Linked DNA regions of Homo sapiens. The protein of the gene in region 1 interacts with the protein of each later gene in a pairwise test. Each region holds a gene or a part of one and is shown in the gene's direction. Other genes may lie near its edges.

The links.
Region 2: the proteins of ARL14EP (region 1) and SETDB2 interact in binary tests that used the Homo sapiens proteins (3 or more experiments, as listed by UniProt).

Annotation. Positions count from the first base shown.
Region 1 is NC_000011.10:30,315,797-30,331,814, forward strand, and holds the start of ARL14EP (ARL14 effector protein), read left to right. Parts: upstream 1-7,307; 5' UTR 7,308-7,406; intron 7,407-11,209; exon of another isoform or gene 11,210-11,262; intron 11,263-15,089; 5' UTR 15,090-15,152; coding exon 15,153-15,578; intron 15,579-16,018.
Region 2 is NC_000013.11:49,436,073-49,451,727, forward strand, and holds the start of SETDB2 (histone-lysine N-methyltransferase SETDB2), read left to right. Parts: upstream 1-8,201; 5' UTR 8,202-8,785; intron 8,786-15,480; 5' UTR 15,481-15,655. UniProt on the Homo sapiens protein: Histone methyltransferase involved in left-right axis specification in early development and mitosis. Specifically trimethylates 'Lys-9' of histone H3 (H3K9me3).

The DNA of each region.
Region 1 (16,018 bases):
CCTATATCACATTTCTTTAAATCAACTGACTCTTAAATATTGTTATAAGGAAAGCAAGGCCAAGGTGGGTGTGAGGTTAGGGGATACTAGTTCAAATAATGACTCCACTTCTTTTAAATTTAATACCCATCTTTCCAGATTGAAATATACCATGTCATGAATGAGATAATACATGTGAGCTTATCATTCCAGTGTTTTCAGACATAACTGGAGGTCCATAAATAGTAGCAAGAATAATTATAGCTACCACTTATTGAGAACTCACTATGTGCCAGGCACTATGCTAAACTATATATATAAAAAGTTATACACAAACACACACACATACACAAACACATATTCATTTATTCCCCACAAAAACCCTATAAGGCAGATGCTACTTTCTCTATTTTACAGATAAGAATTTGAAGCTTAGAGAATTAATGTAATTTCTACACATTATCCTACTAGTGGCTAAGCCAGGATTTGAACCAGGCAGTCTGATTCCAGAGCCCACTTAGAGTTTTGTTTCATGCCCCAAGGAGGATACTGAAGCTTTAGAAAGCAATTAGTTACGCACCCTCCAGAATAACTAAAATGAAAGCCAACAATAACAACTGAGAACTCCAAGTGGTGGTGAGTATGTTTATGAGTGTAAATTGGTGCTAGAAGGAATGTAAATTGATGCAACCACTTTGAAAAACTCTTCAGCAGTATGTACTCAAACTGAACATACACATTGCCTATAATCCAGCAATTCCACTCCCTACTACATATCCAAATGAAAGTGTAAATGTATGTGGACCAAAAGACAGAATGTTCAAATGTTTGTTGCAGCATTATTTGTAGAAGCCCCAAATTGAATGAACCCAATGTCCATCAACAGTGAAAGAGATAAAAGAAAATGTTGTCGGTTTCACGTAATAGAAATACCACTCAGCAATGACAAATATTTAATTGCTTACGATGTCATACAGCATCAATGAATTTCAAGGACATAATACTGACCACAAGAAGCCAGACACAAAAGAATATATGTGGTACAATTCCAAAGCTCAAAGTCCAGAAATAACCAAAACCAATCTATGGTCAAAGAAGTTAGAATGGTGGTTACCTTTGGTAAAAGGTGCTCACAACTAGGAGACAGCATACAAGAGACTTCTGGGGAGCTCATAATTTCTTGACCTGGGTAGTGGTTATACAAATATAAAAATGTATCAAGCTATAGACTTAGAACTTGTGTACTTCTTTGTGGTATGTCAAAATTCAGTATGAAAGCTTACACAAAGGAAATGAAAACAATTACTAAGAATTCATTCCCCTCATTCCCTTTCAGAGTACATGCCATCTCATCCCAAACTTGGGATTCTTGCATGCAAATGTTTCTCTTTTTTCCTAATTCTTGGCTCCTTTGCACTTTCCCAAGTGCGTTTAATGAGAAGCTGTGAATTTCTCACAGGAAACTACCTCACTAGCTGATATCCTAAACTTCAGTTCCACTCTCTGACCACAACTGTTCATTGTTTCAGTTTGATCACAGATTTCACCTCCTTGCCTTCAATTTTGATTTTGAAAGCTCCATTTCTTTTCATTCTCAACCAGCTTTCCCTCTTTCGTTCATTTGTTTATTTGAAGAGATTTATCACTTCAACAATTCCACTTACTCAACTAATAGTGCTAGGCTCCTGGAATACTATAGTAAATTAAACTGACCTTATGTCTTATCTCATGATTCTCACCATCTAATGACTTCCATGAAAAAACCCTAAACTCTCTTGTCTCTTGTCCTTCTTACACATCTAACCGTCAACTGCTCTTGCTTAAATTAATTCTGTTGTCTGCCTTCACTGGTCCCACACAAGGGCAACTATACACTAGGAGAAAAATTGAAATTTTCACATCATTAATTTATGTCTCTGCATATTCATGGTCTCTAACTTCATCTAGGTCCTAAATGCTGTTCTATGTCCCTAGCAAGCTTTCTCTTTATTTTTCCTAACCTCTAATTGAAATTTAGCATTTCATTTATTTACAAAAGGCAGGCAACAAATAATAGTATTAGCAGTGCCTATTAGTACTGCTGCAGTACTAATAACTTTGTTTACAGTGTCTATAACTTTGTCACCAACAGAAATCACATAATTTTTTGTGTCACATTATAGTTGTTACAGATATCTCAGGATATATTCATATTCATTACTACTTTGCAATTATGGTAGTTATTAGATTTGACACCAGACCATGCTATTGTATGCATTAGGATAAGTATTGTAGCATTTTAAAAAAATATGTTTTTTGACACTCCTCCCATCAAGAGGTAAAGATTATGTTTCTTTCCTGTGAATCTGGGGCAAGCTCAATGACTCCCACATAACCAAGAGAATTCAGTGGAAGTGACGCTATGTGTTTCCAGGGGCTAAGTCATGAAAGGCAAAGAGGCTTTCACCTTGCTTCCTGGAGCACAAACCCTGGGAGCTCTGAGACACCATGTAATAAATCCAACTACCTTCTGGCTGTCATGCTGTGAGGAAGACCAAACTAGCCTAAGCAAAGAGCCCACGTGGAGACAGAAAGAGAGAGAGAAAGACCAACCTGGCCCAGCTCCTACTGTTACTTTGATTGGTAGAAACAAATAAGTGCTTCTTACAAGGTCTGTCAATCTGCTCCTGCTTATGGGAAGACAAACTATTCCCAGCCCTGTGTAAGTACTAGAAACTGTTTGGCCCACTGCTTTTTGGTGTCTTTTCCCTAGCCTCGTGGAGTTTCATCCTTCCATTGCACAGATAAGTACTCAGAGCCAAAGGGAAGTACGCAATACAAAGGAACACTCTTGCAGATGTCCAAGACTCTCCTGTGTGCCATGTCCTCCTCTCAGATACTCTGCCCATCAGCCTCTCCAACTTCCCATCTCTGTCACCTCCATCTCTGTCGCCTCCATTTAGTGAAATCACCGGTTTTTGTTTGGGTTCCCCTCCCTGTTCTAGGCTCTGGACACTGCCTCCAGATAGTAAGCTGGGGTCATTATGGAACTTAATTCATTCGTTTCCCTTCTCTCAGGGATCACGATACTGCACTGCCTGTTGGCTAATGTCTGAAAACAATGATTTCATAGATACATACATATATGTGTATATGTATATATACAACCCTTTCCTAAATATGTATAAGTATACATACTTATGATTTATATGAATGTATATATGTGTGTATATATTATATATCTTATACATATTATATATTTATAATATATATTTTATATATGTATATAAAATATAAATATTATATTTTATCATATGCATATATTTTATATATCTATATATTTATATATTATATATAACATATTCAGTATATAAATATATATAAAATGATATATACATATCATATATTTTATATTATATATATGCGTAAATACATGTATGTAATATATAAAATATATATTTTTTTCAAGTGATACTCCCATCTCAGCTTCTCCAGTAGCTGGGACTACACTTGTGAGCTACCGTGCCCAATTCATTTCACATATTATGCTCAATTTTCCAGATATTTCTAGTGATAGGGTAATTCTGCAGAAGCAGAAATCCAAATGTAATTGCTAAAACCTAAATTAAAACTGAATTGTGTTCTTTAATCTTAAAATTCACATTCAAAGACACAAAAAAGGGGTGCCTCTTTATACTTGACAGTAAAGCTTGTTGAAGATGTTCTCTCAGGTAGCTGTTAGCATCTCTAACTTCCCGCTCTTTAATTGGGTATATTCTGACTTCTACCATCACCATATCACTGAAACAGGTCTTATTACACCATCTATAACTATCTTATTAGTACAGCTAAGGAATATATTTAGTTCTTTTTATTTTCCTTCTAGTTCATTTCAGTCTGAGCTGGAAAATGAGTTATTTCCTTACTTGACTTTCTACACCTGTGCTATCCACTCTGGTAGCCACTAGGCACATGCGGCTACTGAATATTTGAAGTGTAGCTAGACCAAATTGAGAGGCACTGGAGGTGTAATACACACACCAGGTTTCCAAGACATAATATGAATTAAAGGACGTGACATATCTCATTAGTTTTTATGTTAATTGCATGTTAAAATGATAATGTCTTAATTATTGGGTTAAACAAGCGCTATCTCTAAAATTAATTTCATCTGCTTCTGTTTACCTTTTTATATCACTACTAGAAAATTTACAATGGCTTATGTGACTCACATTGTATTTCTAATGGCCAGTACTGCTCTATAACAACCTCTTGCACCGACAGAGCCCTGCTTTAAACTTTCCTTTCTTGGTTTGTGGGTCTCTGTTCTTCCCTAGTTTTCTTGCTACCTCGCTGTCTGCTCCTTCTCAGACTTTTCTGAGACCTAAATCTGTTGTTCTAAAATCGTAGTGTGCTGCAAAATCACCTGGGTTGCTTGCCAAAAATGCAGATTCTTGGATCTTATCTGCAGATATTATGATCTGGTAGACTGGCTTGGAGGACCGAGATTCTGATTCAGTAAAATAGAACGAGAGCTCAGAAATTTAGAATAATCTTTAGCCCTATTCTTTCTCATTTTACCCTATACATTCCATAGGTATCATCTTCCCTATCCCACCCAGCTCCAAAGATAGAACTACCACTCACAGACTAACATCTCCCAAAACTCTTATCTTCCAGCTGAGATCCCTCTCTTATCCTGCCCTCTTCTTCCAGCTGCCAGCTGTATATCTTCACTTGGAGGTACATTTGATAAGTTTGAGAAAACTTAGCGTATTCAGTATTTAAATTCTTATCTCTGTTCTCCCTAGCCCATTCCTCCTTTTGACCTCCCAGTTATCCAAGCTAGAAACCTGAAATAATTATTTACTACTTCCTAACCTCTATATCTAATCAGTTAAAAAATCTGACCAATTCTTACTTAACTTCTATCATCTCTATGCCTTTTAAATGTCCTTCATTTAGGGTTTCTCAATCTTGGCTCTACTGAAATCTTGAGCCAGTTAGTTCTTTGTTGTTGGAGGAGGGAGGTTGTCCTGTGCATTGTTAAGTGTTTAGCAGTTACCCTGTCCTTTACCCCTCTAGATACTAGTAGCACCCCTTGCTGGTACAGCCACAATGTTTCTAGACATTACCAAATCCAGTGGGAGGAGGTGAGTGGGAGGGAATCACATTTCAACCCATAGAGCCACTGCCTCACTTGATGGAGGCCCTCTTCTTAATCATCTGCGTTAGGGCAAGAGTTTCCACCTGGCCCTCTAGCCCAGGACCGCACCTCTCTTCTATTCTCTACACTCCTGATAGTTTTACAGTTTTCACAGGTTAAAATTCAGTATCTCTAATATGGCATAAAAAGGGCATTATTTGTTACCTATGCGCCTTTCCAGCTTTCCACTCTACCCATACTGAAAGGCTTTGCAGTTTCCTTAGGGATGGATGAAAGGCGTAAGAAGTGTTAACTATAGACAGTAACTAAGCTAGTAGCTTATGAGATAAATGCAAAACTCCTAGCATATTTTAAATATAGAATATGAGTAAGCATGTACTTTGTGAAACATAGGCAGGATTATGTAAAATATATAGAGTAAGTTAGTAAACTATAAGACATGCCAAAGTTAAATAGAAATATGATGGAATAGAGAGTCACTGATAGCCAAAAAGGGATGGAAAAACTAAGCAATGAGCAATCATGACATCTCTGGGCTATTAACTATGTCACCTCTAAATCAGCCACCCATTGGTCACACTTAGAATAGTCTCATATGTGCTCTGCCCAGGAAATGCAAATAAAACCTGTATCTGTTCAACAACTTACCGAGTAAGCTCTGGCTGTGACCAGGCATACTTCTCTGCGTCTATCCAATAAAGCAGGTGTGTACCATTGGCCCAAAGCACTTTCCACCTGTGGGCCTCCTTGCTGACACCTCACCTCTGGTCCTCGTAAGTATACCACCAGCGGAGAAGGCTGTTGTGGCAGATAGGATATATGAACATTACTTAACCCATGATTCAGGTGATGGCGTCCTTCCACTTGCTTGCACCTTATCCTAAGTGTGTCCACTTACCACAACTCTTTCACCTTTTCACTGGATACTTAAATTGAATAGGCTATATTATTTAATAATCTTAATTTGATCTGTGAGCCTTCTCTGTTTCATTACCTTTAGGATAGCTTGCCTAGTTTACTAGGAAGTCACAATTGCATCAAATTAAGTTCCATGCAGGCATTAATCTCCTCCCAGAACGCTCCTGCTTTAGCCCCTATCATTTTATCCTGTTTATATCCATGTGTTTCTGTTATGACACTTTTCACACCACACTGTGATTAACTGTTTATTCCTCTCTCACTAGTCTGTGAGCTCCTTGGAAGCAGAAATAAATTTTGTTTTTGTCTAATCATTGCTTAACAAAGTGCCAACCACAAAGTAAACAGTAAAAGAATTACAGAATGCAACCTCCTGCAGACACAGTTGAAGAAACTATTCATTGTTTTTTCCTTTCTGTCATTCCCTAGTTCTAGGCATCAAATCGCTTGCCTAGTCGGCGAGCAGTATGAAAGTGGTGGGAGGACCATAGACGCACTGCAGAAAACAGCTTACAGTAGATGCAGAGAATTACTAGCACGCTTGGGCCTTGGTGGGGCTTGTCTTATTTACCTGTTCCTCATTTTTCACTGGGAGTTTAAAACAAGTTTTTGTTTCCCTGCTATCCCGACCTTAAGATAATTAAAAGGCCAAGAATCTTTAAGAGACTTTCAGTTCTCCTGGATTCTAGATAATAAAACCCACTTTAAAAATTAATGAGCACCTATACTGTGACAGACAATAAGGATACAATAAAAATACCATTTCTGTTCTGAGAAAATTTACAAGCATCTTCCTGGAGCCTACATTTTACTCGAAGTAATAGCTATTTTTATAGCTTACAATAAAAGATGCATTTTGGAATATATTTCGCTTGAATTAAAGAAATAGAATGTGAGACCTTAAACAAAGGGTCCGTTCTTCAGATCCTTTTAACTCACACTCTCCTTCAGGGGTCGGGGTATTTGGGTGCAAAAGTTTACTATCACGCACAGGTGTAGAGATGTACAAATACGATCCAATTTAGTGGAAACTGTGTCTTGTAAGAGATGGCCCCCAGGGACCTCCCACATCCCTAACCTCTCGGAGGACTGCAAAAGACAGCATCTGAAGCACCTCTTGCCTCGCCTTGAATCATTTGCCACTTCACACCGCCCCGCCCCTTCCGTCCCCGGAGGCGGCCAGCCTCGTGTCCGCTCTAGGCTTCTCCCGGACGTCTCTTTGTGGTGGCGTTGAGCTCCTCTAGCCCGCGCTTGCCGTCCTCTCAGTGGTAGCGCGGGGACTGGCTGGGAAGCGGTCGGTCGAGTGTGGCCTGTGTGGACTCGCATCTTGCCCGAAGCCGGGCGGAGGAGAGCTCAAGCTAAGGTGGAAGGGGAACGGGGGAGGCCCTGGAGAGGAGTGGGAGAGTGGAGACAGGCCCCTGGGTGGCGAGGGAGCCCGGCGGCGTAACGGGGGAACCCGGGGAGAGGTGGAAGAGGAGGCCCGCACACGTGAGGGGGATTTCCAGCTGCTGGCCGGGGCCTCTCACCCCTACCCCCGCGTAGTTCATCTGCGACGCAACGCCTTGTGTCAAAGCCCAGCACAGGTTCTGCCGCCTCTGACCTCTCTGAGGGTCGTCGCCTGTCCTGTAGGCCCAGGACCTTCAAAGCTACGATTTTGACGTGAACTACTTAGGGTTATTGTGGCCTTGAACTCCGTAGACAGCCTTTATCTCTGCTATTTTTGTTTTTAATTTTTCAAATCAGAATCCTTTCAACCCTGGCCGTTTGAGGCCAAAGGCTAATGTTTATTTTTCCATCCCGGTACCATGAACTTAGTAGGTGCCCACTGGACGGATCTGGTGGTTTTAGTCATTTGTAAATAGCCGTGAACTAAGGAAGAAATGTATGTGGCCTCTTACAGGGTTGGGTTGGGAATCATTGCAGGGTTTGGGGGCACTCTGTTAGGCATGATAACAACAGCTCTAGGCTTGAGTTTCTTCATCTGTAAATGAGAATGATAGTACTTTCCTCAGGGTGGCTATGAAGGTTCCTGAAATGATGTTTGCCCTAAGCACTGTACCTGGCATGTCCTGACTACCACACTTGAACCAAATCTTTTCAATGGTGTTATGGACTATATTTTTGTTTTAAATTGCCTTTACCTTTCTTATTGTACCTAGATCTTCCTGAGGATTGAGACTCTCCTCTTTGCCTTTGGGCCAATTGTCATGTTATAGGTAATCAGTATTTGAAGATGACAGGCACAAAAAGTTCACAGTTGCAGGATGCGTGACTTTTGTAGGCGTATGTACCCATAACTAAAGCTCCTGATTTGGGGAGTAGGGGTAGATTAAATTATATTTTTATTAAATAAGAGATAATCTGGGAAGACGCTGTGTAAGTTGTAAGACCCTATGCCAAGAAAAGCCTTTAATTTTTTTCATAAAACATTTCATGAAAACTTTTTTTATGTTTTTCATAAAAGAGACATCAGTTGACCTAAAAACGAAGTAAATTTTTTGTTTTGTTAAATTTCCTCTAAATGTTACTTTTCCCACTAATAAGGAGACTGGTAACAAACTAAAAAACTATGTTAAGGGAAATTAACATATTGGAACGGGTATTTCTGCATCTCCCCTACAAATTTAGGAAGAAAAAGTGAGTTCCCTAATTAATCCTCAATTCCCTCTGCTGTTGTTTTGTTAGTGGCTGTTTTGCTGTTTTGTTAGTGGTGGGGGGGGTGTTCTGCATTAACACCCCGAAACCCCTGTGATAATGTCCTAGACCTTGCAAGCATCATGGCCGCGTGTGAGTTTTCTCAGCTTCCTCAACCTAATCTACCTTCCTTACCGTTTGGTAATGGGCAGCAAGAGAAAATGCTTAAGAACTCTTTAAAACTACTGATGTTTTAAAGTAAAGCTGGATAATTCCCTGAGCTGGCAGCGTTCAAATTGTATGAGGAGCAAATACTTTTGTTTACTGCCTAAGGTAGTAGGAGAGGTCTAATCAAAGTATTCTACATTTATTTCATTCTCTTTTGATTCTTAGGTAGTGCTACAAAAATATTAAATGTTAATCTTAGAATACAAAACATGCTGTATTTAGGCACTAAAGTAAAGTGATGTCAATCCTAAGGCAGCAGAAAGTCTTAATTTTCTCCTATGCAGAATTTTTAAAAGACAATGTCAGATAAGAAATCTGGACTTAGGAGAGACTTTATTCAAAAGGGTTATCACAAAAGGAGAAAAGGGACTTTTGCAATGGGTAGAACCAAAAGATCTGCAAGAATCTCCAAGGAGTGAACTGTGCTAGAAAGTTTTGGTGTGAGGAAGTAGGATATAAGGGTGGCTTGATCTAATAGTAGATCTGAGAATGTTATTCCTTGGCTCTGGCTGAGAGTTGGCCAAAGCTCAGGAACCTGGGGGAAGGAGAGAAACTAAAGTTTGATTAACAAGTATTTTGTTCCACTTGATCTGTAGGGCCAAGCAGATCAGCAAATTATTCATAAATTCATAGTTGAAGCAAAAAATGAGAATTTGGAGGGTCTTTCTTTTGCCTGGTCATAGGTAAACAAGGGGGGATCCTTGAGTCTTACCTAACTCAAGGGTGGGAGGATTTTTTAAATTATAGCTAATAAGGAGCCAGCACAGGGCTCAAGCAAAATTCAACTTGCCAAAAAGTGTTTTTATTATTTGACATTGAAAAGTATTGAAAACCTGGATTTTATTTATACCATGGTGAATCTTTCTAAAACTGGGGTTTTTGTTATTGGTTTGCTTGTTATCCTATAAGAAGCTGGATTTTTTTTCTTCCATGAAGAGTACTAGGTTTTATATTGACCAAAGTGTTTGGAGCAAATTAATCTTTTCTTGCGTTAAAAGATTATTAAAATAGGAACTGGTAAGATGCTATAACCAGTTTAAATGACAATTAAAAGTAGACATGTTTATAGAGCAGGAATATTGAAATAAATGTGCAAGTGAGGGCAAAATTGGCTGCTTCCACAGTCAGACGGAAGTCCATTGAACCTTCAGCAGATAGAATTTACAAGAATACAGACAATTATTTTGCATTGCTGTTGGTTATCTACAGTTGACAGTTGTAAAATAGCTCCAAGATGCTGAAAGAATCAGACTTCCCATGTAATCAGAATGTGAAAACCTGAAAGGCTGTGCTCTCAACAGTGCAGTTTTCTATTGAAGCAGATGTTTTTCTCTGTCCTTAGTGTATCGAATTTAAATCTCCTCTCCCTCAATAATCTTCCCTAGAGTTAGACTTCCTGTAAGGCAAATACATATCTGTGTTTTTCTTACTCTTTTTTGCTATCTTCTATAAAATATAGAAGATATCAAAACATTTTAAATTTAAATTTTTTAATTGAATTATCTGAAGCAGTACATAGCAAACTGTAATGTGCTTACAAATCACTTGGGTATCTTTTTGAAATGCAGATCCTGACTCATTGGGTCTGGAGCTGATACTGAGATTCTGTATTTCTACTGAGGTCTCAGCTGATGCCAGTGCTGATTCAGGGAGAGTAAACAGTAATGCATTTCCAACTATATTAAGGAAGGGGCCAGATAAATCATCGTTATGGAAGAACATAGCACTGTACTGTAGGTGAAAGGAACAATATGAACTTGCTGGACTGTCATTTGAAGAAAACAAAATATAAACTGTAGGCCACATTGCCAGAACACAGACCAAAATGAGCAAAAACAGTTGCTAGGAAACAGGCCCAAATGCAGAACTTTAGCTTATAGGAGGAAGTCAGAAAGAGCTGGAAATGAGAACATTGAGGAATATAACAGAGGAGGAACAACCAGAGGGTGTGATTTTTAGAATGCAAACAGTGACCACTTAGGATCAGTGTCTGAAATTTGGTGTTCCTTGAGCTAGCTGGACTTGGACTCTTTGACAGTATGTGAACAAACTGCCTAATCGTAGATCAGAAAGCTAACCTATGGAAGACTTTAAAACTACCTTGACTCAGGTGTGTGCAGTTTTACTCAGGTGTGTGCAGTTTTACTCAAGTGAGTGGGATTAGTTTGCCGCTGAATTTTAATCTGTGTAAAATTTAGTTTTTATCACAGTTGGCAATGTCTTCTATCAGATAGGATATTTTAATTTTAAAATGAGCTGATCCTGTAAAGAAGTAATTCGTTGTCTGAAATTCAAATCTAACAGGGCATCCTGCGTTTTTTATTTGCCAAGTCTGGTGACCCCATTTTCTGCATCCAGTAAGTAGAGATCTTTGGTGCTAGCTCAATGTGCTGCCTGTTACTAAGAAAAACTGAACTTCCTGTAAACAACTTACAGGACCCACCTACTCAGAAGGCTGAGGTGAGAAGATCACTTGAGGCCAGGAATTTCAGAAATAGGTATTCAACTTCACTGGCACAAGTTACAGAGTCTATTCCATTAGTTTCCTTTAATCATGATGAACTCTGTTGAATTTTGTAGTAATTTAGCCATGAATAAAGGAAACTAATGGAACAGAGACTCCCCAATAACTAAGGAAAAGAATTTTTTACCTAAAATTAAAATTAATAGAGTAAATGAAATTACCCTAAAGGGTAAAAATGTATTATTACTATGGACAGATAAGGTTTCTAAAGTAATTAGTTTCCTAAATCCAAGATGCTTTTCCTATCAAATATGACCATGGTAGCCCAAGTTTTGAATATTAGGAAATAGCTTTATGGCAAAAAAAGTTCCATTATAGATCTGTGGCTAAAAACTGGTGATGATTACCTCCAAATAAAAAGAATCTCTGGCATTAACAAAATACTAAGCATTATTTTCTGTACAGTGATGAGGGATAGTTGTCCTAGTTTCCCTTGTATTAAGAAAGGTCAGGCCAGGCACGGTGGCTCATGCCTGTAATCCCAGCACTTTGGGAGGCTGAGGCAGGCGGATCACGAGGTCAGGAGATCGAGACCATCCTGGCTAACATGGTGAAACGCCATCTCTACTAAAAATACAAAAAAAAAAAAAAAAAGCAAAATTTAGCCAGGCGTGGTGGCGGGCACCTGTAGTCCCAGCTACTCTGGAGGCTGAGGCAGGAGAATGGCGTTAACCCGGTAGGTGGAGCTTGCAGTGAGCCAAGATCTCGCCACTGCACTCTAGCCTGGGCGACAGAGCGAGACTCCGTCTCAAAAAATATATATAAAAAATAAGAAAGGTCAAAGCCAGATTGTGTCCCTTATTTGCTAATATACATTGCCACATAGTTCGTTGCCTTGTAACTTTACCTCTGATTTCCTTTTTCTCCTCCTTAATTTATCTTAATCCAATTATCTGTTTGAAGAAAAAAAAAATTTTTTTTATTTTTTTATTTTTTGAGATGAGAGTCTCGCTTTGTCGCCCGGGCTGGAGTCCAGTGACACGATCTCGGCTCACCGCAACTTCCGCCTCCTGGGTTCAAGCGATTCTCATGCCTCAACCTCCCATATAGCTGCACTACCACACCTGACTAATATTTTTGTATTTTTAGTAGACACGAGATTTCACTATGTTAGCCAGTCTAGTCTAGAACTCCTGGCATCAAGTGATCAACCCACATTGGCCTCCCAAAGTGCTGGGATTACAGGCAGGAGCCACAATGCCTGGCTAGAAGAAACTTTTCTAATTATTACTGTGATAGAAGCCATTTTATCTGATTTGATTGGGACCTGTATTAGTTCATTTTAAAAACTGACTAAAACACAGTAAATGAATATAAATATACTCTGTTTTTACCAGCTTTAAAACTTTTTTCAGTTAAAATGTTCAGTAACATATTTTAACACTTTAAAGTGTATTTTATTTTTTAACTTTGTAAATACAGTATTTTGACCTAAAACACAGACATTTATTCGCCATTTTTTGTTACCTGAGGCCAGAGTCTTCTTTTTATATGATTTTGCTGATTATTGTTTTTCTCTGCAGAAACCATATCAAAATGTGTTTAAGATTTCTCTCCAGTTTTTGTTTTTTTTTTAATTTTGCAAAGCTTAAAAACACTTGTAAAATTGCTGAATCCTAGACTTCACAGTCCCTCCCTACCACTCAGATTTCAGTGGTTCACATTTTTTCTCAACAGCAGATTTTTTCCTAATGAGTTGCATTGGTTGCATATTTTCTTGAGAATCCAACTTTTTTTTTTAATTTGCTTTGAAAATTATTTATGAAAAATTTCAAATAGAAAGTATGGACAGTAGTGAAGCACTTATGTACATGTCACCAAACCTTATTTTCTGTAAATCTTTTTGGGGAAAATAATGTTTTTTCCCCTCAGAAGTATCCACAAATGTGATATATGTTACTCTTATGTATATTTTAGTATATATTCATGTTTCATCTGTAAATCTTATGTACTATCTTATCTTTTTAAATTTTACCTTTAATGATGATACTATATAACCTTTACAACTTTTTTCACTTAAGATTGTCTTTGAGATTTATTCATGTTGATTCACGTAATTCATGTAGTTTATTCATTTTAACTGTTATGTGGGAGTCCCTTGTATGAGTAACGATTTCACATCCTTTACAATTAGGTTATTTGTCATCTTTCACTGCCAAAGGCAGTGAATGCTGAAAGTTTTCGTATATAACTTGTGCTCTTATTGGAGATATTTTTCTCCATCTGACACCCAGAACTGAAAAGAGCTGAGTCCCAAGGTGTATGCTTCCTCAGTTTTACAAGAAATTGCAGAAAATGTTCTAAAGCAGTTGCAGCAATTTACATTCCTACCAAAGTTATTATAAGGAGCATGTGAGAGTTGGACACATCTTAACCAGATATCAGATTTTTAAATTGATTTCAAGCAAATGTTTAATAAATGATATTTAATTTGCATTTTCCTAGGAACTATGGGGGAAACAGTTTGTATGCATGTATTGGCTTTTGTTCTCTTTCTCTGTGAATTGCCTGACTATATTTGTTTAGTTTTCCAGTGGACTCTGTCATTTTCTAATTGATTTTTGGAAGTGAGGAGTTACTCGAATATTTATGATAATAATCCTAACACCTTTCAAGTGTCTTTTTTTTTCTCCTTTAGTTATACAGAAATGTGTAAATTTTACATATAATCAAATATATCCATCTTTTTATTTATTTATTTTTTTGGTATCTGCTTGCTTGTTTGAAAAATTCTTCCATACTTCCATGTCAGAAAACCTTCTTTATTTTCTCATAAACATGTTTAGTTTTTCTTTTCATGTTTAAATCTTTAATCCACTTGTTATTGATTTTTGTTTGTGCAGAAGAGATCTAATTGTTTTTCCATATGGTTAAAGTCCCTTCTTCATTAGTGTGTGATACCCATCGATTAATAGTACCACATGTCATATACTGAGCCCTCATCTACTCATGGATCTGTTTGTTTATACTATACCAATACCATAGTTTTAATTAGAATAGGTTTAAAGTAAATCAATATGTTACTGTATTTTCCTTCAGGATTACCTTGGCTTTCTTAGACCTTTGCTCTTTCATATAGACCAGCTTGCTAAATTCCAAGGGGGTGGCAGTAGAATATCTGATGGAACTTTGATTGTAACAGAACTGAATTTACAGATGTATTCCCAGATAATTGACATATTTTTTATAATGAGCCACTCCATGATATATAGCTGCATTTATTTAGGGTACCGTTTTTGTCTTGCAGTTTGATAATTTTCTCCATGAAGGTCTTGTTGTATGTCTTTTGTAAGAGTCACATATTTTGTAAGATACAGTGTTTTTTGGTTTCTAGCATCCCTGGTGAATTCTCTTATTAGTTCTAATAGTTTGTTAAACCTCTTGTATTTCTCATGTATCTTAGGATAATATTTCTTATTTCCTCCTTTTTAATTCTTATGTGGTCTTAAATATAATCTGTAATTGCAGATGTTTTCGTGAAGTTCTGACTTTACAGGGAACGCTTCTGTTTGATTATTAAATGTCTATTATAAGACTTCGATAAATACCTTTTTTATTCCTTATTTTCTTTTAGATAGGTGTTGAATTTTATCAAATGCTTTTTCAGTTTCCTAGATAAACTTGCAGCACAAATTTGATTCTCTTTAATATTTTCTCTAGGGTGATCAGCCCATGACCTAAACCTCCAGACAAAATAAAACGGAAAATTTGCTAGAATCAAGAATGATGGATCCATGTTCAGTTGGAGTCCAGCTTCGTACTACAAATGAGTGCCATAAAACCTACTATACTCGTCACACAGGTTTTAAGACTTTGCAAGAATTGTCATCAAATGATATGCTTTTACTTCAACTTAGAACTGGAATGACACTTTCTGGGAACAATACAATTTGCTTTCATCATGTAAAAATTTACATTGACAGATTTGAGGATTTACAGAAGTCATGTTGTGACCCATTTAACATACACAAGAAATTAGCCAAAAAAAATTTGCATGTAATTGACTTAGATGATGCCACTTTTCTGAGTGCTAAATTTGGAAGACAGCTTGTACCTGGTTGGAAGCTTTGTCCAAAATGCACACAGATAATCAATGGAAGTGTGGATGTTGATACTGAAGACCGCCAGAAAAGGAAACCTGAGTCAGATGTATGTGTAATAGTCATTTTTTTCTACATTGTGAATTCTACCATGTAGGATTTTGCTTAACTATAAGAAAATCATATTTACATTATTACTAAATTTGTTAGCATACAGTGAATTAAAAGGAGGGGTGAAAGTGGATGATGTTTCTAAATATTATTCACATATACTGAAGGTCAAGATTGGGGGATAAAGAAAGTAGGCCTGGGAAAGTAATAATAAAATATGCCTAAGACTCCAAGCTACAACTTTTAGTGCGAAGACTTTAGGAGTGGGTTTTAGAATATTCTGGCCAAGCCAGGATTTAGTTTCTTTTCTGATACCAAAGTAACTACACGGGACATGGCAACCACCAAGGGTCTTTGCAGCAGGATGACTTCGCCTTTATATGAAGGACTTGGAAATCACTGCTTTAAAAGGAACATTAGAGAGGTGACTTACAGTAA
Region 2 (15,655 bases), on another chromosome or scaffold:
ATCTTTGGCTTATACTTTCGTAGACTTTAAACATGTTGTTCCATGGCTGTTTTGCTTTGTATGTTGCTGTTTAGAAGTCTGTTGCTAACCTCTCCTTTCTGTCTGGAAGCCCAGAGGAATTTTTCTTCATCATTTTGAAAGTCCAACTGTTTTACTAGGACATGACTTGGAACTGACCATTCTGGATCAATTTTCCCAGTACACAATGAGCCTTTTCAACATGTAGATTGGAGTCATCTCTTATTTCCAGAATGTTTTCATGGATTGAAACTTAACTATTAGCTTTGCTATTGTTTTTTTCTTCTTAGGAACTCTACTTTTACTTATTTTCTATATCAATCACTTTCTATTACTTTTTAACCTTTCTTCATTTAATTTTCATTATCTTGGTTGTTTTCATACCTTTTCTCAATGCTCCTTATATTCAGTCCAATCTTTTCTTATGTACCTTGGAATTTAGCTTCATTTCTTTCTTTATGACTTTTTTTTTTTTTTTTTTTTTTTTTTTGAGACAGGAGTCTCTCTATATTGCCCAGGCTGGCCTCAAACTCCTGGGCTCAAGCCTCTCAAATAGCTGGAACTACAGGCATGCACCACTGCATCTGGCTTTAACTTCATTTTAAAAGCTGATTTTTCTTTTGATTTATTTTATTTCCTGAGTTCAGTAAATTCACTTTTCATATCTTCCTCTTTTTGTCCATTTGTTTTGCAGTTTTGAATTTGGATTTGAGACTTTTTATCTCTACAAATGTTAGTTTAAGGATATTTTAAATTCTGGTAGGAGTACTGTGCTGTAGTTTTCTTTAGTGCTATAGTTGGATGTTTCGGGAAGACTTTTCATCAGCTAAAATTTTTTAAAAACTTTTTTCCTTATTTTTTGTAGAGACTAGGTCTCACTATAGTGCCCAGGCTGGGCTCGAACTCCTGGGCTCAAGTGATCCGCCCACCTTGGCCTCTCAAAGGGCTGGGATTACAGCTGTGAGCCACTGTGCCCAGCCCAGTTGAAATGTTTTGACTATCATTTTGTTTTCCAGCTAAAGTAACTTTATATGGATGTTGCCTGCCATCTTCTGTTCATCTTGAAATATTTTATTTTTCCTAAACCAGATATAGTTGTGTATAGGCAGAAGCAAGGAATTTAGATGACTTAACTGGATTTCTTAGTAAATAGTACCTAATAAAGTGTTTTTTTGTTTGTTTGTTTTTAATTAATGACTCCTTTTTGGGTGGGAGAAATGAGTATCTATTTTCTATTCTGGTTCACCAAGATCCTTAATTTCTACTACCCCTTCTCTCTATCACCAAGCCTCCAGGTAGATGGTGACCCTTCCAAGGCACCCTCTTTCCTTTCCCCAGAAGCAGTACTTTCATGAGACTGCGTCTTTGGTCTCATTTTCTTTCAAGTCTCTTATTTTGTCTAATGGATCTTACACCTCTTCTCACTTCTCTATCCAGGGTGGGGCTTTCTCTTTCTGGGAATTATCTGTATTCTGCTACCCCTAGGTCCTGCAACCTCTCCTCTTTTTTTACAGTCTCCACCTTGCTTGCCACTTCTCCATGGATTCTGCTAGACTGCAGTGTTGATTTCCCTGCATGCCCATAGACATTTTGCTAGCTATTAATGTATGCTTACATATCAATAAATTTGTATGGGTTTTCTCTTGTTAACCTACTGTTAGTTTAGTTCAGCCAACTCAGTTATCAAACCTTCAGAAGCGAAATTTAAGCTTCCCTGCAAATTGCTGGTTATTATTTAATATTATTTTGACACAGGGTCTCACTCTGTTGCCCAGGCTGGAGTGCAGTGGCGCAATCACAGCTCACTGTAGCCTTGACCTCCTGCGTTCAAGAGATCCTCCGACCTCTCTCAGCTTCCTAAGTACCTGGGACTACAGGTGTGTGCCACTACGCCCAGTTAATTTTTTTATTTTTTATTTTTTTTAAGAGACAAGCTTTCGCCATGTTGCCCAGGATGGCTGGTCTCAAACTTCTGGGCTCAAGCAATCTTCCTGCCTCAGCCCCGCAAAGTGCTGGGATTACAGGCATTAGCCACCGTGTCCAGCTGGTATTATTTTTATTAGTGTTCTATCTTGCACTTCTGAGTATGTTTAAGCTTCCACCTGTCAGCTTCAAGGGCTTTTTTCTCCCAGCTAATGCCTAAAAGGCAAACAACCTTATTCTACTTCTCATTCACCCTCCTCTTTTCCTCCCATTTTTTTGCGGGTTATATTATTTCTACAATGTCAGACCATGTAATATTTATATACTATTCTATCATCATTATCCTCATCTTTTAATCTTGATGCTACACACAAAATATATTTGATTTGCTCACCACCTGACCTTATGTTGAAGATTTTCCAATCATTTCTTGGTTGTCTGAAATTTGTTCTCTAGTATACGCTTCAGAAGGATTCATGGGAACAATTATAGCCATTTTCCTTGAATTATTTCATGTTTATAAATGTTTGTCAATGCCCTGAATTCTTGAAGGGTAGTTTGGTGAGATAGGAATTATTTTATTTCTTTGAATAAATACTTTCTTAATATCTGACATAAAATGTTGCCACCAAAAATCCAATCTGATTTTCTTTGCAAGTGACCTGCTCTTTTTATTTCCCCCATCAATGCAAGAAGGGTTTATTTTTAAAAATCCAACAATTTTACAGGACCACATCTCAGTGTTAACTGTTGTGGGTTGATTTCTCCAGGTTTACAGTATGCCTTTCAACATATGTTACATTTAAACCTACTTTAATGTTAAGCGTTCTTGAATTACAGTCCTAATAGTTGTTCTGGTCCATTGCTTTGGCTTGCTTTGTTTTACTGTAGTAAAATAAGGAACATAAAATTTACTGTTTTAAAGTATTCAATAAGTGGCATTAAGTATATTCAGTGTTACATAAACATCACCACTATCCTTGGGCTTACATTTGGGGAACTCCATTTATATTTATTCTGGCTCTCTTTGCCTGTCTTGTCACCTCTTGACTCCTTTTTAAAAATCTTTTTATTTTCTTCATTTTTCCATTTTTCTTATCGTACTTTCTGTGATGTATATTCACTCTTGGTTTCTAATGCAATCATCACTTTAAACTGTCTTTTTCTTAATCTTTTATTGAGTTTTGTCTGCTCTCATTGCACCTCCTTCTATGGTCTAGCCATCTCATTTCTTTTTTTCCCCTGAAAACATAGAAAGAGGTGAATTTTATTTACTTTTTTATAATTTCAAGTTCTCTTTTAGATTTGGGGGTACATGTGCAGATTTGTTACATGGGTATACTGTGTAACGCTGAAGTCTGGAGTATGACAGATCCTGTCATCCAGGTACTGGGCATTATACTCAACAGTTAGTTTTTCAACACTTATTGCATTCCTTCCCTGCATAGTATTCCACGGTTCATATGTAACCAATCTATCCCTGATGGACACATAGGTTGATTCCACATCTTTGCTATTGTGACTAGCACTATGATGAACATATGAGTGCATGTATCTTTTTGGTAGAACAATTTCTTTTGGATATACACCCAATAATGGGATTGCTGGTCAAATGGTAGTTCTGAGTTTTTTGAGAAACCTTCAAACTGATTTCCACAGTGGCTGAACTAATTTACACTCCCACCAACCGTGTGTAAGTGTTCCCTTTACTCTGCAGCCTTGCCCACATCTGTTGTTTTTTGACTTTTTAGTAAGAGCCATTCTGACTGGCGTGAGATGATGTCTCATTATGGTTTTGATTTGCATTTCTCTGATGATTAGTGATGTGGAACATTTTTTCATCTGTTTATTGGCCACTTGTTCTTTTGAGAAGTGTCTGTTGATGTCTTTTGACCACTTTTTAATGGGTTTTTTTTTTTTTTTTTTTTGCTTGTTGAATTAACTTCCTTATAGATTCTGGATATTAGACCTTTGTCAGATGCATAGTTTGCAAATATTTTCTCCTATTCTGCAGGTTATCTGTTTGCTCTGTTAATAGTTTCTCTTACTGTGCAGAAGCTCTTTAGTTTAATTAGGTCCTACTTGTCAACTTTTGTTTTTGTTGCAATTGCTTTTGAAGACTTAGTCATAAATTCTTTCCCAAGGCTGATGTCCAGAATGTTTCCTAGATTTTTTCCTAGGATTCTTACTGTTTGAGTTCTTACATTTAAATCTTTAATCCATCTTGAATTGATTTTTGTATGTGGTGTAAGGTAGAAGTCCAGTTTTGTATGTGGTGTAAGGTAGAAGCCCAGTCTTATACACATGGCTAGCCAGTTATCCCAGCACCATTTATTGAATAGGAAGTTCTTTCTCCATTGCTTCCTTTTGTCAATTTTGTTGACCAGATGGCTGTGGGTGTACAGCTTAATTTCTGGGCTCTCTATTCTGCTCCATTGGCCTATATGTCTGTTTTTGTACCAGTACCATGCTTTTTTGGTTACTGTAGCCTCAAAGTATAATTTGAAACAAGCTACACATTCAGTAGCACTGAATGTGTAGCTTGTTTTGGGCAGTATGGCGATTCTAATGATATTGATTCTTCCAATCCATGAGCATGGAGTGTTTTTCCATTTGTTTGTGTCATCAATGATTTCTTTCAGCAGTGTCTTGTAGTTCTTGTAGAGATCTTTCACTTCCTTGGTTAGAGGTATTCCTAGGCAGTGTGTGTGTGTGTGTGTGTGTGTGTGTGTGTGTGTGTGTGTGTATGGCTATCGTAAACAGGACTGCATTCTTGATTTGGCTCTCTGCTCCAACATTATTGGTATAGAAACGCTACTGATTTTTGTACAGAGTTTGTATCCTGAAACTTACTGAAGTTATCAGTTCCAAGAGCCTTTGGTGGAGTCTTTAGGGTTTTCTAGGTATACAATCAGATCATCAGCCAAGAGAGATAGTCTGACTTCTTTTCCTATGTGGATGCCTTTTGTTTCTCTTGCCTGATTGCTCTGGCTAGAACTTCCTACGTATCTCATGTCTGAGCTCTTATTTCTGAATTTATGTGGTTCTTTCAAAGATTTCATCTTTTCCTTAAATTCTCTTAGCTTACTCTGAAATATTTAGATTGTCATTTTCATCTGCTTTGTGGCCACATTTTTGGGGTATGTTTTCATAATCTCGTGCAATGTTTTATGGCTTATTTTGATGATTTTCTTATAATGATTTAGTGTATATATATATATATATATATATTCCCTTTTCCCATATATTTATATAACTATATACTAAAAGGAGGTTCCCGGCTAGGTACAGTGGCTTATGCCTATAATGCTAGCACTTCGGGAAGCCAAAGCAGGAGGATCACTGGAGTCCAGGAGTTTGAGACCAGCCTGGGCAACATAGCAAGATGCCATCTCTCCAAAAAATTAGCCAGGCATGGTGGCACATATCTATAGTCCCAGCTACTCTTGAGGCTGAGGAGGGAGGTTCACTTGAGCCTGGGGGGTCAAGGCTGCAGTAAGCTGTGATCATGCCACTGTATTCCAGCCTGGGCAACATAGCGAGATCCCATCTCTAAAGAAAATAAAAAGGAGGTTCCTATGTTACACTGTATGGACATGCTGGAGTTTAAAAAAATCTATTTCCTAGTGGAATCTGGTTGTTTCCAGTTTTGGCCATTACAAATAAAATCGCTATAAATATTTGCAGAGCAGCCAATATAGGTTTTCATTTCACTTTTCATCAGAGAAGCATACAATCATCAAAGGGGAAATTAAAACCACAATGAGATACCCCATCATACCTCATATAAAGGCTAAATATTTTAACTGATAATGCCAAGTGCTGACAAGGATGAAAAACTACTGGAACTCTCTTATCTTGGTGGTAAATTTCAATCTAGAGTGGGCTTGCCAGATCATGTGATAAGGATATGATTAATTTTATAATAAACTGTCAAATTGTCTTCTAGGTGGCTGTACTATTTGCAGTCTCACCAGCAAGACTAAGGTTTCTCCTTGTTTTGCATCCTTGCCAGGAAATGTATTGTTTGTTTTGACATTCTGAGTAAGAGGTTGTGTAGTATCTCACTGTGGTTTTAATTTGCATTTTTCCAATGACGGTGGTTTTAATTTGCATTTTCCCAATGACTATTCTATACTTCTTTCATTTAACACAAAATGGTAACCACTTTCCTATGTCATTCAACAGCCTATGCCACTACTCTTTGAAAACGTTCCTTTTAAAAGGCTGAAAAATATAATGATGGGATGTGTCATAATTTATAAAACCATTCTTCTACCATTAGATATTTGTTATTTCCAATTTTTCACAAGAACAAAATTACACTGTGATTATAAAGCTTTGATTCTATCTCTATTTCCTTACAAGTTTCTTAGAAAAGGTCAAAAGGTATATGAACTTTTGTTTCTCCATGCATTTTGACAAGCCAACTGGAAGATACAAGTCAAGTGGAAGATACAAGCATGGAATCAAGTAATTAAGAAAAATGATTCTCAGGCCAGGTGCCGTGGCTCACACCTGTAATCCCAGCACTTTGGGAGGTGGAGGCGGGCAGATCATCTAAAGTCAGGAGTTCAAGACCAGCCTGGCCAACATGGTGAAACCCCATCTCTACTAAAAATACAAAAATTAGCTGGGCGTGATGGCCGGTGTCTGTAGTCCCAGCTACTCAGGAGGCTGAGGCAGGAGAATCGCTTGAACCACGGAGGCAGAGTTGCAGTGAGCCGAGATTGCACCATTGCACTCCAGCATAGGCGACAAGAGACTCCATCTCAAAAAAAAAAAAAAAAAAAAAAAAAAAAAAAACATCAATTATTTTGCTGTTTGTTTTGTTTTTTGGTATTCCTGATGCGAGATGTCTTTATCATGTATTGTTGATTAGGTTGTTCATCAGTTAATCTTGAATAACTGAAATCTAAGCTGAAGGCAATAATACATCGGCTTTCTTTTCATGCAAGTCAAACTGCTAAAATCTACCACAAAATATTAGCCTTTCATCAGCTTGGTCTTCAGATCCAATACATTTTCCCCTCAAATGAAAGACAATGCAATGCCATCCACAACAATGCTAAAAAAAAAAAAAAAAAAGGAGGAGGGAAACAAGGTTAAGTCCTGTCTTCTTCCTCCTACCCCAAAAAGAGCTCAGAAATTAAGGTGCTTTCCCTAACAAAGCCTCCTCCTGCTCCATGAAGTGACCAAGCATGTCATGGCAGACCCAGAGATTTATAATCTTCAACATATCGTTATCGGGGAAATCAAGATTTGACAAAATTCTTCCTTCACGCCCCGTTTCTGCAAGACCACCACTTTCTAGCTTAAAATAAAGAAAAAAAAAAGACAGCTGCAGGAATGCTTGGCTGCCCGCTAATGTACAATTTTGCCCAAACGCAGAACTTGACGCCCACTATTACCAAAGGATGGCCTTAGTAAAGTAACCCCCGCGAAGAGCAAACTGTTTAGCAGCCGCTCCCTCGAAAAGGACGGAAGAGGAGGTCTCTTCTGAACCTGAGGATAGTAGAGAGGCACTCCCCTTCCACTACTAGCTTTGCTCCTTTCTCAATCAGGCAGTTCATCAGCTAGCCTCCTTTGTCAAAGGGGGTTGATGGTCAGAATCTTTGCGAGACAAAAATTACTAAAAGAGCTCCCAGGAACCAATGTTAAGGCATCAAAGGCCCCGCCCAGCCCCCACAATGATCAACAAACCAAAACCTGGGATCCCTACTATTACCACCACCACAACCATCACCACCACCACCACCACCATTCCTCGCTCTCTCTAGCCAGGGATGAGACTCAGGCCCAGGAAACCCATCCTTTCCGCAAGTAGGAAGGCGCTGGGTCTCCTCCCTTAGGCCTCTCCTTTACCCCATTGTTCTCTCCGGACCCCTCCACTACGGCCAGGCGCTATGTATGTTTTCAACCCCCAAGAAGCCCAGTCCCAGCCACACACAAGATGGCAGCCTCACACCTACCGGAGGAAACAGCTGCGCCACCACTCCAGTGATGCCGGCCTCTCGACTACGAGTAACTCCATTGGCTCAGCTACAGTGCGCGAGACAAGCCGAGAGCGCTAGCAGTCAATCGGGAGGCGGCGCGCTCGGGCGCCACTGCGGTGCCAGCGGTAAGTGCGCCGAGTCTCTGAGGCGTGAACCAGTGGGGAGTGCGACCAATCAATGGGCTCCTGGCTGGGTGGTGGGACGGCCGGCGTCCGACTCCTCCCATGTAGTGATCGGTTTAGGTAGGTCGGCCTGGTCCCCGGCGGAGGTTACGCCTTCCCTCATCCCCGGTAGAGGCAGGGCGGGACTGTTGTGGTTGAGATGAAGGCTAGTAAATGGTGAAGTACTTCCCGGCCAGAGGGCACCTGCGCTCGGGAGGTTTGGGCGGCTTGGCGTCGGAGGAGAGCCCCACCCGCGGAGGAACCCAGCCTTGCCAACGGAGCTGGCGGAGCTCACTCCTCAGGTCAGGCGGGCGGCGTAGAAAACGCAGCGGAGCCAGGTGAAACCAAGGCACCGCCGTGGCTGGCCCCCGACAGTTCCTCTAGCCGGGAGGTTGGAGGAGCTGAAAACGCCGCGGAGCCCTCGGCCGCCCGAGCAGGGGCTGGACCCCAGCCCTTGCAGCCTCCCTTCTCCTGGCACCCAAGTGCAGTCCTGGCTGCAGAAGGGGCCGCGGGCGCACTGAGTTTCCAACCTCCATTTCAGCCTGTCTGTCTCAGGGTGCAGCCTTAATGAGAGGTGATTCCTAAGCTGCTGGGAACCTGAGGTTGTCAAAGGGGCGGCAGGAAATGGACAGCAGTATAAAACCCAGAAGCAGAACTTGAAGGTTAAACCACTAGCCCATTTCACAGGTAAGATTACACGAGCCCTTAAATACAGCAAGTTCAGTCATTCATCCAAGATCATGGAGTTCAGATTAGATAGTAACACTTCTGACTCGCTATCAGCCACAGCCCAATAAGTAATTAAGTAAGGAAAGATATGTAATTAACTGTGCTCTTTGGCATGTGGAAACCTGCAGTGAGCTCTGTAAATACTAACACATGAGGCCAAGGAGAGGAGTAAATTTGAAGAGGTCAAATGGAGTAACCAAAGCATAGGCTCTGAAACCATGCTGCCTGGTTCCTTATTTCGTGTCTGCCACTTACGGTATGGCATTCCTTAGCTTCCTCATCAGCAAACGAGCTGCTAATTTAACCCACATGACTGTTAGGGGGATTAAATAAGAACACGTGAAGTAGTTAGAAGCGTGACTAACCCGTGGTTCTTAAGCGTGACTTAACCCGTGGTTCTGTCGTTACAATTAAAACGTAAGGAGCCGAGAGGAAATGGTAAACGTGTTTTTAAAGCCTGTTTTAGAAACGAAAAGGAACCATACATTGAAGCAAAGCAGACTGGCTTAATTATTTTTCTACCAAAATGAAAAAGTGAGAAGGGGAAAAAAGTTTTTTAAGCCCATTTACTCTCTGAAATATTAACACCAGTTGTCTCTGGATGATGGGATGGTGTTTAAATTTTCTCCTTTATGCTTTATTGTATTTTGCAGATTTTCTCCAGGAAACATGTTTTACTTGTGCACGTTCAGTTTTCAAATTTTCAGGTGTGAACGCTGGTGAGAGCTGCTTAAAAACAAAGCTATGGGCCGGGCGCGGTGGCTCACACCTGTAATCCCCACACTTTGGGAGGCTGAGGCGGGCGGATCACCTGAGGTCAGGAGTTCAAGACCAGCCTGGCCAACGTGGTGAAACCCCGTCTCCACTAAAAACACAAAAATTAGCCGGGCGTGTGGTGGCGGGCCCCTGTAATCCCAGCTTCTCGGGAGGCTGAGGCAGGAGAATCGCTTGAACCCGGGAGGCAGAGGCTGCAGTGAGCCGAGATCACGCCACTGCACCCTTCTCACTGCACTGGTGACAGAGCGAGACTCCGTCTCAAAAAAAAAAAAAAAATCTATGGCCGTGCGCGGTGGGTGGCTCACATCTATAATCCCAGCACTTTGGCAGATCACTTGAGCCCAGAGTTCAAGACCAACCTGGGCAACATAGACCTCATGTCTAAAAAAAAATAAAACTATTACTGAGTGTGCTTAGGTGGAAGTATAAATTGGTAGAACCTTTCTGGAAGAGAGTTTGACAATATGCTATAAAAAGCTTTAAAATGAATTCCTTTTTGAACATTTATATATACTTAATTTTTAAAAATTAAGTACACTTTTACATTCTTTTACAGAATTGGTACCTTGTAGATAAAGAGCACAATCCAGATTTTGACCTTGAGTTTTTTCTTGCGTGTCAAGGTTATACTTATAAAAACAGTTGAATAGCTTCCCGTATTTTTCCTTCTTGAAAGTTCGTATATGATAAAAATTCTCCGTTCTTTGAAAGTTTTGTACAAGGAATGTTCCCTCACTCCTCTCCCTCCCTACTCCCGCTGGAGACTTTGGTACAGAGCTTTCAAGTGTTTTTTAATACTTACACCTTTTAATACTGTTACATATTCTATATAGGTGAATATATACATTTGTAATTTTTTAGTGGAAAAATACTATACTACATCATTCTGTAGCTTTATTTCTTGACATTGTTTTTGCAGCCTGTACATGTTATTTATAGCTCATTATGTTATTTATGGATCATTTCTTTTACCTGCTGCATAGTGTTCCAGTGTATGACTGAATTGATCTGTTAATATAAAACATTTCTTTGTCTCTTTTATTGGTCTTGTTGTTAAATCCTATTTTGTTTGATGTGTGCTGTATAGCACATTTTATTGCCATTCTCTGAGAACATTAGGTTTCCAGTTTTTCACCATACAACAATGCTGCAAGGAAAATCTTTGTGTTTTCTTGTGCACATGTGCTATTTCTCTAGGATATATACCTAAAAGTGGAATTGCTTGGTTTTAAGTTGTGAGCATTTTTAGTTTTAATAGGTCATGCTAAATTTGCCTCCAAAAATACCTCTACTAATTTACATGTTCCACAGGTAGTTTATGAGAGTTAAGTTTCTCTACAGTTTAGACTAACATGAGATATTATCTTCTTCATTTTTGCCTAGTGATGGCTGCAAATTATATTTTTAATTTTAATTTTCATTCTGTGATCTAAGATTGAAGTGTCTATTATGTTTGTTAACCTATAATTTATATGCATTTCTATAGTTTTTTAAAAACATGTTTAAGTTCTTTATGTGTCCTCGATACTGTATTTTTAGAAGTCTCTTTGGTGTGTATGGTTAATTATGCCTCCTTTTTGTTGCTATTGTTAAAATATGTTAAAAACATTTTCTCTTAGCTTCTTGCTTGGCTTTTGACTTTTTGTTAACTTATTTGTTCTACAGATGGATTTTCCTCTGCCAATCTTTAGGCCTCTTTTTATCTTACTGAATTTCTCTAAGACTTCCAGTACAGTATTGAATAAAAACAGTGATAGCAACTGTCTTCATCTTGTGCCTAATAAAAATTCTCCGAATGTTTCATCATTGAGTATGATGTTTGCTGTCATTGAGTAGGATGTTTTGGTAGATAGCCTCGATCAGAATAAGAAAGTTCTCTTTTTTCCTAATTTGCTAAGGGGCCCCCCCACCTTCCATGGAATAATTTTATATTGAATTGTTTTGTTTTTCTGCATGAAGTGATAGTTTTCCTCCCTTTGCCTGTTAATATAAGCATTCACATTGATAAACTTTTCATGTTAAACTTTTTAGGTATTCTTGGGATAAACTATTTTGGTAATACATTCTTATTCTACTGCTGGATACCTTTATTCAGTATTTTTGTGTCTAAGACCCAGTAGTGATTTGGGCCTTGAGTTTTTTTCTTGCATGTCAAGGTTATACTTATCTCATAAAAAAAAGTTGAGTAGCTTCCCATATTTTTCCTGCTTCAGAACAGTTTGTATATGATAAAAATTAGCCGTTCTCTGAAAGTTTTGTACAATTCATCTGTAAAAGTTTATGGACCTAGTGTACTAGCAGTGAAAAAAATTTCATATCTCATAAAAAAAAATTGAGTAACTGCTTAAGAAAAAGTTGAGTAGCTTCCCATATTTTTCCTGCTTCAGAACAGGTTTGTGTTTGATAAAAATTATCTATTCTTTGAAAGTTTTGTACAATTCATCTGTAAAACTTAATGGACCTAGTGAACTAGCAGTGAGGGGTGGGGATGTGTGGCACACATCTCTAGTAATATCTTCAGTGTTTTGAGCCTATTTGGTAATTTATATTTTCCTAGAAAATTGTTCAGTTCGTCTGTGCTCAGGTTCATTGACATAAAACTGTCTGAATTTTAAAATGTTTAAAATCTCTTCAGTAGCTAGAGATCTATCTTCATTTGTTATTATTTATTTTGTTGCTTTTTTCCCAGCTTCTTTAATTGAATGTTTAAGTCAATATTTTCATTTTGCTAATAAAATTTATTTAAGGCCTAAATATCTCTTGGCATGCTGCTTTGGCAAAATCCTTCAGGCTTTGAAATGTATTACTTCAACCGATCACCATTTCTAAATGTTCTTAAATTTCTCCTTTGATTTCTTCTGTAAACCATATACATTATTTGGGAAATTTGATTTTTTAATTTCCGCAGGTAGTATGGGGTGGGGGGTTGATTTACTACATTCAGTGACTATGCTCTGTGTAAACAGTCTTTTGGAATTTGTTGATAATTCCTTTTGGTCTCATAATAGTTTTTGTAAATTTCATGCTTTTCCTCCCACAAGAAGTATTTTCTGTTGGGTGCAGGGTTCTATATATTTTTTGGATTAAGCTTGTTAATTTGTCATTTAAATCCTTTATACTCTGGTTTTTTACCCACTTTATCTCAGTTCCTTAGATTTGTTACTTCATCACCAAATTGTGGATCTGTGCATTTTCCTTTTAATTTTGCTTTATATATTTCAGAGTGATGTTATTTGTACATAAAGGGTCATGAATATTAAATCTGGTGAATTGTTCTGTCAGCATAAAATATTTGTGTCTTTTATTGATTTTCATATTCAACTCTTATTTGATACGTTTCTTCTTATAATTGCAGATGTCTTTTTCCAGTCTCTTCGTTTTCAGCCTTGCTGTGACATTTTGTGTAATTTAAGTGGGTCTCTTATTTTAAAATATCATATCTGGGTTTTGCTTGCCATCCAATCTGAGAGTCTGCCCTTTAATAGGTAATTCACCTTTATTGTGATTATTGACATATTTTGGCCTTATTCTTGTCATTATTTAACAAGCTTCTCTTTGTATCTTTTATATCTTATTTTTCCACCTGTTTTTTGGAACAGAGTCTTGCTCTGTTGCCCAGGCTGGAGTACAGTGGCGTGATCTCGGCTCACTGCAACCTCTGCCTCCCAGGTTCAAGCAATTTTCCTCCCTCAGCCTCCCAAGTAGCCCAGATTACAGGTACACACCACCACACCCAGCTAATTTTTGTATTTTTGGTAGAGATGGGATTTCGCCATGTTGGCCAGGCTGGTCTTGAACTCCTGACCTCAGGTGATCCACCCACCTCAGCCTCCCAAAGCGCTGGCATCACTTTTATTTTTAATTGAGGTTAGCCCCAAGTTTTCTTTGTTCATTTTTTTTTAAGTTGATTAACTTTACATTTCACAGTTCTTAAATTTATGTTTTCTTAACAAAGTGTACATTTAGTCAGTTTTGATAAGGCCCCTGTAAAGAAGAAGTTAGCATGCTTCTACTTTGCTTTCTCTCATCTTGAAACAATCCCTTCCATCTCTCCTCCAGAAAAGAACATAATCTCTCATGATATCTTTAAGAATTTTTCTTTCATTTGTTATTAAATTCAGTTTACATTTAACATTAATGTGTTTTACTCATTTATTTGCTCACTATTGCTACGTATACCTCAGTGCTTTCTTATAGGTTCATTTTTCATCATCAGATACTTATTTCTTTCACAGTCTCTGAGTGACTCTTTGAATGTCTGCAAATGTCTTTTTTTCATCTTTAGTATGGAAAGATAGCTTGGCTGGATATAGAGTTCTGGGTTCATACTGACTTTGCTTTAACATTTTGCATCTGACATTTCTGATGAGAAATCTCATTACTAGTCTAATACACCTTCCTTTTAGATAATCTACATTTTTCTGGAAACATCTAAGACTTTGTGTTTTTGATATTCTGAAGTTAGTCACGGTTTGTCTAGCGATGTGTGTTAAGAATTTTATCCTGGTTGGTACTCAGTGGATTCAGTTTGCTTATGTGTTTTCCAGTTCTGAGAAATTCTTGCTCATTATTGCCTCCTCTCCATTTTCTCAATTTTTTGCCTCCTCTTGTTTCCTTGCTCTGTGTTCTTGGTGAATTACTCAACTCAGTCTTCCAGCTTACTAACTGGCTCTTCATGTTAGTCTGTTCTGTCATTCAGTCATCTATTGAGTTTATTTCAACAACTGTTTTTATATCCAAGATAGCTAACTGGCTTTTTTTCAAAATTGTGTGTTATTTCATGGATGAGATTTCCTTCTTTAGCTCAGTCTCTTTCATAGTGTAGCCTTCTTCAGATATTTGAGGACTCTCAGTTGTGCATTAATCTCCTCTGAGAGGATTCCTGCCCATCGTTTTGCTGTTGTGATTGTGGTTGCCATCATCTCTATAGCTTCCCATCTGTTTCCTTTCCCCAGAAGGGCCTTACTGACTTGGCCCTTAGAGAGTTCCCTTTTTGTTTTCAGCATGGCTATATATATATATTTTAAATCTCCTAACATTTCCATGGTTTGGTGTGGAAGTGGCAGAAGAATTTACAGTATCTTGACTAACATCTTGAGAATTAAAATTGTTGATCTATTTTTGACCTATTATTCTACCTCCAGATATGTTATCCTAGGGAAATTGCCAGAGATATGTATAAAGTATATTTATTTTAGCATTATTTATTATACTAAAAATTAATCTATAAAGGAAAACAATCTAAATATCGAATATAGAGGTTTATATTATTAATTAATATTTTTATTAAAATTTAATTATTAAAATATTTAATGTACTATAATGTATGCGTTATTGACCAAAGTATGTTATACAGCCAGTTGTATTATACAAAAATATTAGTGATGGAGGAAAATGCAGGAAATGTTTTTAATGAAAGATTATAAAAAATTAAATATACTACAATCCAAATTTTTGTTTTAAAACTACATTCTGAAAGAATAACAATAATTGGTAGTATTCCTTGAATCTTTCGTATGTCAGGCACATTATATGTAATTAAGTCTTGTCCTCAGAACAACCTGTGAGATAGTTAGTATTATCCCCTTTTTAAAAGGTTTATAAAAGACTTATAAAATGGAGATAGTAATATAAATACAAATATATTAAATATGGGTGATAGGATTGGGTGGGCCTTCTCTATTATTTCTAATTTTGATACTTTACATATTTTTTCCAGATAACATAATGTTTTTTTGTAATGGTTCATGCTGTTTTAAAAGATCAAGCTGTTATAACAATATCTTATTTCCTTATATATACATATATATATATATATATATATATATATGTGGTCCTTTACAAATATGCACTATTCTTTATTGTTTTCCTTACAGAATGTTTCATCCATTTGTGGACCAAAAGATGGAGTTGGTTTTTATTTTTAAAAAGATAATGTTAATGATCTGATACCACTACAAATATTTACGTGAGAAGATTCATGGACTTGTCTTTTGGTTGGACTGTCACTCATTTCTGAAAGTTTCTTCAGCCACAATTTCTATTTGAAAA